Homo sapiens: one gene and its partner. The protein of the gene in region 1 purifies or fractionates together with the protein of each later gene. This does not show direct contact. Each region holds a gene or a part of one and is shown on either strand. Other genes may lie near its edges. The genes, in order: CD24 and FGR.

What was found.
Region 2: the proteins of CD24 (region 1) and FGR purify together in Homo sapiens (affinity purification with western blotting, with the first as the bait; one study listed by BioGRID). This does not show direct contact.

What each region holds. Positions count from the first base shown.
Region 1 is NC_000006.12:106,972,586-106,976,492, reverse strand, and holds the start of CD24 (signal transducer CD24 isoform a preproprotein), read left to right. Parts: upstream 1-1,763; 5' UTR 1,764-1,846; coding exon 1,847-1,915; intron 1,916-2,453; exon of another isoform or gene 2,454-2,607; coding exon of another isoform or gene 2,608-2,823; intron 2,824-3,907.
Region 2 is NC_000001.11:27,625,077-27,628,883, forward strand, and holds part of FGR (tyrosine-protein kinase Fgr), read right to left. Parts: intron 1,522-3,807; exon of another isoform or gene 1,384-1,521; intron 1,176-1,383; exon of another isoform or gene 970-1,175; intron 76-969; 5' UTR 13-75; intron 1-12. UniProt on the Homo sapiens protein: Non-receptor tyrosine-protein kinase that transmits signals from cell surface receptors devoid of kinase activity and contributes to the regulation of immune responses, including neutrophil, monocyte, macrophage and mast cell functions, cytoskeleton remodeling in response to extracellular stimuli, phagocytosis, cell adhesion and migration.

The DNA of each region.
Region 1 (3,907 bases):
TGTTCCCAAGCACATCTTAAACGTGCTTGGAAAGTTACTGAGCTAAAGTGACTGACCTTGAAGGCACAAACCAATTCAGTCACTATTCAGTCAACAAACCTACTGCAGATTTCATTGTCACTTTGCTTCCCTGAAACTTACTTTGTTTTAATGAGACTGCCACGCAAAAGTGAAATTTAGACAAATTTAGAATCTTACTACTCTGTGGTTTACTTTAAAGACCGAAAAATGCTTGGGCTAAACCTTAAATAAAAGTATTAAGTCTTGCAATTAAAAATTGAACCAAAAATACTAACGAGAGTGTTCTGCAAAACTGAAATTTAAACAAATTTACAACCATACTAGGTTTGGTCTCTGCTGTTTGCTTTAAAGACTGAAAAACACTTGGGCTAAACCTTCAATAAAAAGATTAAGTCTTGCAATTAAAATTTAAACTCAAAATACTCCACCAGTAAAATTACTTCAACTTTTGTTGTATGCTTGAAAGTTTTCACAATAAGATGGATAGGAAAAAAGTATTCCACCAAAATCTAAAGAGTGATGACGAATCTCCTCTTTGTGCCGGTTCATTAAATTGCCTAATGGCAACTACGGATAAGTAAATGCCTTTATCTCGAACGGTTCTGCTCTTTAAACGAATGACGGGCAACAGAGACCGAAAAAGTGTATCCCCAGGAATTCGAGAGGGACGGTGAATTGTAGTGGGACCGCCAGGAGGGGAGGTTCCTGCCCCCGAGTAGAACCTGGGAGCAGAGCCGCTCGGGGAGGGCGGTGGGGGCTTCAGGGCCGCGGAGGGGGTCCCCTCAGGGTGGGCCGTCTCCTCCTCGCCCGCCGCAGGCAGGAGCGCGGGGGACCGAAACCCTGTAGTTTGCAGCGTCAGGCAGCGGGTCTGCGCCCAGCGAGCGGCTCCCCAGCTCCTGGGAAGATGCGGACCCGGGACGCCCCCGTGAGCTCACTGCGCCTGGCTGACACGAGGCGCTCACAGAACAAAGCAAGGGCTTCGGGGAGGGCGCGGCCGCGGGGCCGAGCGCGCAGATCGCTCCGGACCCGGACACCGCCTGCGAGGAGCGCCGACCAGCCGGGAAGGGTTCGCGCTAGGCGGCGCCCGGGTCCCGTCGGCCAGGGTGAGCGTCCGGCCCGCGTCCGCGCCACGCCCGCCGCGTTCCCCTTTCCTCTGCGGCGGGCCGAGAGATAACCCTGCCCGAGGGGTCCCGGCGCCCGCCCCCCACGCGGTCGCACTGGAATTCGCAGCCCCTCTCGGGTCCCCGGGGCGCATTTTGCAGTCTGAGTGGCAATGCACTTGCTCCAGGACAGGCGGCTACCCCGCCGCAGCGGAGGCGCGGACTTTTCTTTTGGGGGGTAAGATGGCAGGTCCCGGGAAACAAAGGAAACTTGGGCCCGGCCCCCAGCGCGGCGTGTGTGGCTCGCGTGTGTGCCCCGGGTCCTGTGCCGGAGGCGCTGGGCGCCTGTGCCAGCCTGCCCGCAGCCCGCAGCCGGCGCGGGGATACCAGCCGGGTACCAGCAGCCGGCGGCGCCCGCCCACCTGCAGCGGCGCCCGCCCGGGGGGCTCCCGGCCCGCGAGGGCCGGAGCGGCGGTGGCAGTGGCGGCGGCGGCGGGGGCGCTGGGGAACCCGGAGCGGGGCGGGGAAGGCGGGGAGGCGGCGGGCGGCGGCGGAGGGGAGCCGGGGTGGGCGGGCGGCGCCACGTCACGGCTATTGTGGCTTTCCTGGTATATAAGGTCTCGCCGGCTCGCCGCGCTCCCCACCTTGCCTGCGCCCGCCCGGAGCCAGCGGTTCTCCAAGCACCCAGCATCCTGCTAGACGCGCCGCGCACCGACGGAGGGGACATGGGCAGAGCAATGGTGGCCAGGCTCGGGCTGGGGCTGCTGCTGCTGGCACTGCTCCTACCCACGCAGGTGAGGCCCTGGCGCCCGGCGGGGCTCGAGGGCCGTTCCCGGGGTGGGGGCAGGGGAGATGGACCCGGTCCCGGGGGACCGTCCTGCGCTCCTGCCTCGGGCCACGGACAGGGACCGGGAGAGAATCTTGCTTAGCTGACCAGGGGAGAGGGCCATGTGGACCCCATTTTTCCATTCCCTTGCGTGCTGCCCCCCCTCCTCCCACGGCCCTGGGAACAATGCAGCTCCGCGTGCGGGCTGAGAGGACCCTGCCCCACCCCAGGTTCCACGCTGTCCCTTCCCAGGCAGCCAGGTGACTACTTCCCACTTTCACCCAGAGGCCCGAGGTGCCTGCAGGGATTAGCGCCTGGAGAGCTCGGGCTCCCTGGGGACGTTGTCCCTGGGTCCCTGAGGACTCGCTTTCCCCTAGGAATGTCTTCGCGCTCCCCGCGCTCTACACAAAGAGAGGCGACGGTCCCTTTCGGGGAGGGCGGCTCACGCCCATCCTCCACCCTCGGAGTTGGATTGGGTATCCCGGAGAAGCTACGGCTATCTGGCCCTTTTTAAACAAACCCCGGTTCCGGGCTGAAGCCGAGGCGGGGACCCTCTCCTGACGCTGCGCTCTCTGCGAGGCAACCTTTCACGTCCATCGCTTGTCATCTTAGGATCCCCATGTTATTTTAGCCCAGATTGGCTAGTTCTGGGGAGGCAGCATGGTGGGACGATTCTGTCCCGAGTCCCCGCCAGGCTTTGTTCGGGTCGCCGCTACCAGCGCGGTCTCCCTAGATCCTCCATCCGGGGAACCTCGCCCCGGGTGCGGGTACCCGGGGCCGCGCAGCGCTGCCTCGAGGGTGTATGGATGCACCGCGCCGGCGAGAGAGACCGGGGGCTGGGCCTGGGAGACCCTAGCGGGGGCGGGGGCGAAGAAGGTACGTTTGTTTGGGTCAGTTCGGGTTTGGAGGATGGGAGTGACGGCTCTCCAGCGCCTTCGATTGGGGTTAATCGAGGACTGTCACTGGGGCTTCTCCCCCAAAGTTGGGCGCGCTGCGTCCTCCGTCCCCAGACATCGAAAGTCCGGGCTCACCTGGGAGTGCAGCCTGAGTGTGGAACGCGCTTCCCCACCGCTGGCGGGGTAACCGTACCCTATTGTCTTCCTCCCAGTCCGCTGCGCTCCCGAGCCTTCCTCAATTCTTTGATGGGGGAGGGGCGCGGCTGCGAGAAACCGGCCCCCTCCACTCCCCGCCCCATCTTCTCTCCGACCAGATTTTTTTCCTCCAACATTGTAAGTGAGAAGTTTTAATAATGCGAATAAATCTAGCTTGGGAGAGAAAATTTTGTTTAGTGTCAGTTTAATAAACATAATTTTTTTGTTGGTGTAGAGGATCTTTAGATCCTCAGATTGATACACCAGGTTTTAAAAAGAAAACATCACCTGCTGCAGTAAAACTCATTGCATGAATAAAGAACAGGTTACTTTGCGGGATCCCAAACAAGGTGTCCAAAACAGGCACCCTGTTTTAAGTAAATTACCATATTAATGCTTTTCTTTATTGGGAGTGCCGTTTCCTGATGGGACACACTAAATCTTGCACACAGTAGGTGCCCGATAAATAAATTTGACTTGATCAAGATTTTTTTGTTGTTGTCACTAATCTATTTTGGATAGGATTTGTACATTTCTGTAGTCAATATTTGTTTAATGACCTTATGGATTTTACAACAAAAGGAGCTGGTGCTGATGTAGGAGGGCTTTATCTTTGGATTAATAGGCAGCCAAATGTACACGGGGCCCAGACTCTTGCCTGGTGCCACGTCCTCCCTCCAGCCTGTAATCAGAAGCTCTTGTAAACCCTCCCTTGCAGTGAGGGCTGAAAACTCCGATCTGCCTTTGTTCCATGACAAAGGAGAGATTATCACGTGCCCTACTGGACTGTGCATTTCGTGGCTTGAAAAATCAGTGGTGAATGATGCCACTCAGACGCTGGGACACTGGGAGAACCTTGGTTCTTGGCC
Region 2 (3,807 bases), on another chromosome or scaffold:
TACCCCACTCACCCCTTAGGCCCCTACTCCTGGGTCAGTGGGGCTGCGGCATGATCCTTGGGAGGGGTCAGAGACCTGAGGGTGAGACAGAAGGACAAGGAAGATGAAGTCTCTGCCAATGTTTCTGTCAGCAGCTGCCCAGCTCCTGCCCTCTTCAGGAAGCCAGAAGGCCTGGGCTCTGCCCCAGCATGACTTCTGCCTTCACTTTCCTTCCTATCACCCCTGGCACACTTACACAACCCCCGTCACATAGGGCAAACCACCCACACCAGCTCTCTTTCACACTCATACTCACCTGACCCACCAGCACAGTCACACAATAACACTCACAGCATATATTTGCATGAGTGTGCGTGCCAACCCCATCACACGCCAATACAGGCTCTAACAAGCCCAAGCTCACAATAGCACACACACATACACATGCACATATACATGGGGTGCCTGCCAGGTTAACAGACGAACACACTCAGACACACATGATTTTGAACATTATAATCATCTCTCTAACAGGATTTCTATCAAGCCATGCTCAGCTCCCTCACAGTCCCCAGTCACCATCTCCTAAAAACCAGTTCTTCCGGCCAGGCGCAGTGGCTCACGCCTATAATCCCAGCACTTTGGGAGACCGAGGTGAGTGGATCACAAGGTCAGGAGTTCGAGACCAGCCTGGCCAATATGGTGAAACCCCGTCTCTACTAAAAATACAAAAATTAGCCAGACGTGGAGGTGGGCGCCTGTAGTCCCAGCTACTTGGGAGGCCGAGGCAGCAGAATCACTTGAACCTGGGAGGTGGAGCTTGCAGTGAGCCGAGATCGCACCACTGCACTCCAGCCCGGGTGACAGAGCAAGACTCCATCTCAAAAACAAACAAACAAACAAACAAAAAACAGTCCTTCCTCTGAACCCTGCTGTGCTCCCAGCCACCCTAGGGTTCCATGTGGTGGCTGAGTGAGAGTGGATACCTACCTCCGGAGCTCTCCTCCTATCCCCATACCAGAGAAAGGACCAGGTCAGAAGCTGGGGCTACCAGAGTACCTTGGGAAGCCCCACAATGAGCCAACCCTTTTCTGGCAGCGGTATCCTCTGAGCAACAGGGCAGGAGGTCATTGAGCAAGGGTCCCCCACACCCTGCCAGAAACATTGCCATTGCAACACTCAGAGAGGAACCGACTGGTGAGAGGGCTTGGTTTCCTAAGATGTGAGAATGGAGAGTTTAGGGTGGGGCCAACCTTGTGAACCCTGATTTGCCCCAGAGGGGCCCCAAGGTCCTAGAAGAAAGGGCCCCCAGCTTCTCTCTCTCGATCCCCAGTCCAGTCATCCTTACAGATATTCTCTTCCTCTTCTCTCTGGGTCCTATCCTTTCTACCTAGCACCACTCACCTCTTCCAGAAAGTCTTCCTGGATCCACCAGGTCCAGTTGCCTGGCTGATGGTTCCGTCACATCAGTGCTTTGGTCTCCACCCTAGCCCCACCTGCCCCTCTCACCCTTTGCTCTAAGTGATCTCTCATGTGTGTATTGGGTGGGGGTGGGGGCATCACACCCATGTGGTGAACTGTGGGGCGGGCTGTGGTGAGAAGCCTGCCCTAAAATAGCCCCTGTTCACTGGGCCCTGCCTGAGACCTTTGCCCCGGGACCCCTCCCTGGGATGAAACCACTGTGTCTAAAACGCCCCAGGATGCTACAGGGCTAGTTAGAGCCAGGGCAGAAAATAGAGGTGGAGGACTGGAAGCCATCCAGGGCCCAGCGGGAGGGATTTCAGGAACTGGTGAAAAGAGAGATGGGGCTGATACAAAAACAAGGGTGAGGCCGGGCACAGTGGTTCACACCTGCTATCCCAGGACTTTGGTAGGCCGAGGCAGGATGATTGCTTGAGCCCAGGAGCTTGAGACCAGCCTGAGCAACATAGGGACACCCCGTCTCTATAAAAAAAAATCTTTTTTTAATTAGCCAGTCCTGATGGCACCCACCTGTAGTCCCAGCTACTCGGGAGGCTGAGGTGGGAGGATTGCTTAAGCCTGGGAGTTCGAGGCTGCAGGAGCTGTGATTGCACCGCTGCACTCCAGCCTGGGAGACAGAGTAAGACCCTGTCTCTATTTTAAAAAGAAAACAGAAAAACCAAGGGTGAGAATAAAGCCTTCTCACAGGAAGACACACATACACACCTCAAATGGCGCACCATGCTGATACCCAGATCCACACAGCCCTTCAGACCCCTTCTCAGTTGGCACATTACCTCAGCTGCCTCATGCACAGGCTCCAGGCTCCTCTGCACAGATTCCTAGCACAAACATCTTCTAGTGTACACACACCCCATATACACACACCTCCAGCCCTCATCCGTCTGCACATAGATGTGCATGCACATGAACACACACACACACACACACACACACACACATCCTCTATAAAAGAATAGCAAATACAAAATTTATAGCGCTTACTATATGCGCTGGCCACTGCATTAAGCACTTTACCTATATTATCTCATTTTATCCACACAACCCTATGATTTAAGTAGTATTATTATTATTAATTTATTTATTTTGAGAGGGAGTTTCACTCTTGTCACCCAGGCTGGAGTGCAATGGCATGATCTCAGCTCACTGCAACCTCCGCCTCCTGGGTTCAAGCCATTCTCTTGCCTCAGCCTCCTGAGTAGCTGGGATTACAGGCACCCAACACCATGCCAGGCTAATTTCTGTATTTTTAGTAGCGATGGGTTTTCACTATGTTGGCCAGGCTGGTCTTGAATTCCTGACCTCAAGTGATCCACCTGCCTTGGCCTCCCAAAGTGTTGGGATTACAGGGGTGAGCCACTGCACCTGGCCTAAGTATTATTATTACTGATGAGGCAACTGAAGCACAGAGAGGTTTGGAAACCTGCCCAGGGTTGGCCAGTCACAGTGGCTCATATCTGTAATCCCAGAACTTTGGGAAGCCAAGGCAAGAGGATTGCTTGGGTCCAGGAATTCGAGACCAACCTGGGCAATATGGCAAATCCCATCTCTACAAAAAATACAAAAATTGGCCAGGCACGGTGGCTTACGCCTGTCACTGCACTCCAGCCTGAGTGACAGTGAAGCTCTGTCTCAAAAAAAAAAAAAACAAAAAAAAACCAAAAAAACTCCAAAAATTAGCTTGGCATGGTGGCACGTGCCTCGAGAGGCTGAGGCAGGAGGACCACTCAAGACCAGGAGATAGAGGCTGCAGTGAGCTATGATCATGCCACTGTACTCCAGCCTGGGCAGCATAGTGAAACTCTGTCTCAAAAAAGAAGGCCACAGACATGATGTATCCTGGTGTTTGGCTCCAGAATCTGAGCTTTCAAGCATTTCTCTCCATTGCCTATCACAGATACAGACAGATGCAGCCATTCCTGCTAGCATGCACAAATGCGGATGCCCCCACACTGTCCCCCCACCCCCCATGTAGGGATACACACACACACACACACACACACACACACACACACACACAGATATACACAGCCCTCTCCGGTGACATGGACCCACATAGAGCTCTCCTCTATAGGAGAACATAGACTTATACAATCTCTCATGTTCACACACAGATACAATATTGCCACTTCCAATAATACCCACGTATATATTGCCACAACATATCTATATCAGATGGAGGGGATCCCTGAATTCTGCATGCCCAGTATGGCTGGAAGGGAGAGACTATCAGCATCTGAGAAGGAAGCTCTGTGGGCTCAGGAAGAGCCCTGGCAGGACTGACCGTGTCGTCAGCAGGCAGAGGTAGGCAGCTCTTGGGTCTTATCACTTCCAAACTTGATGCAG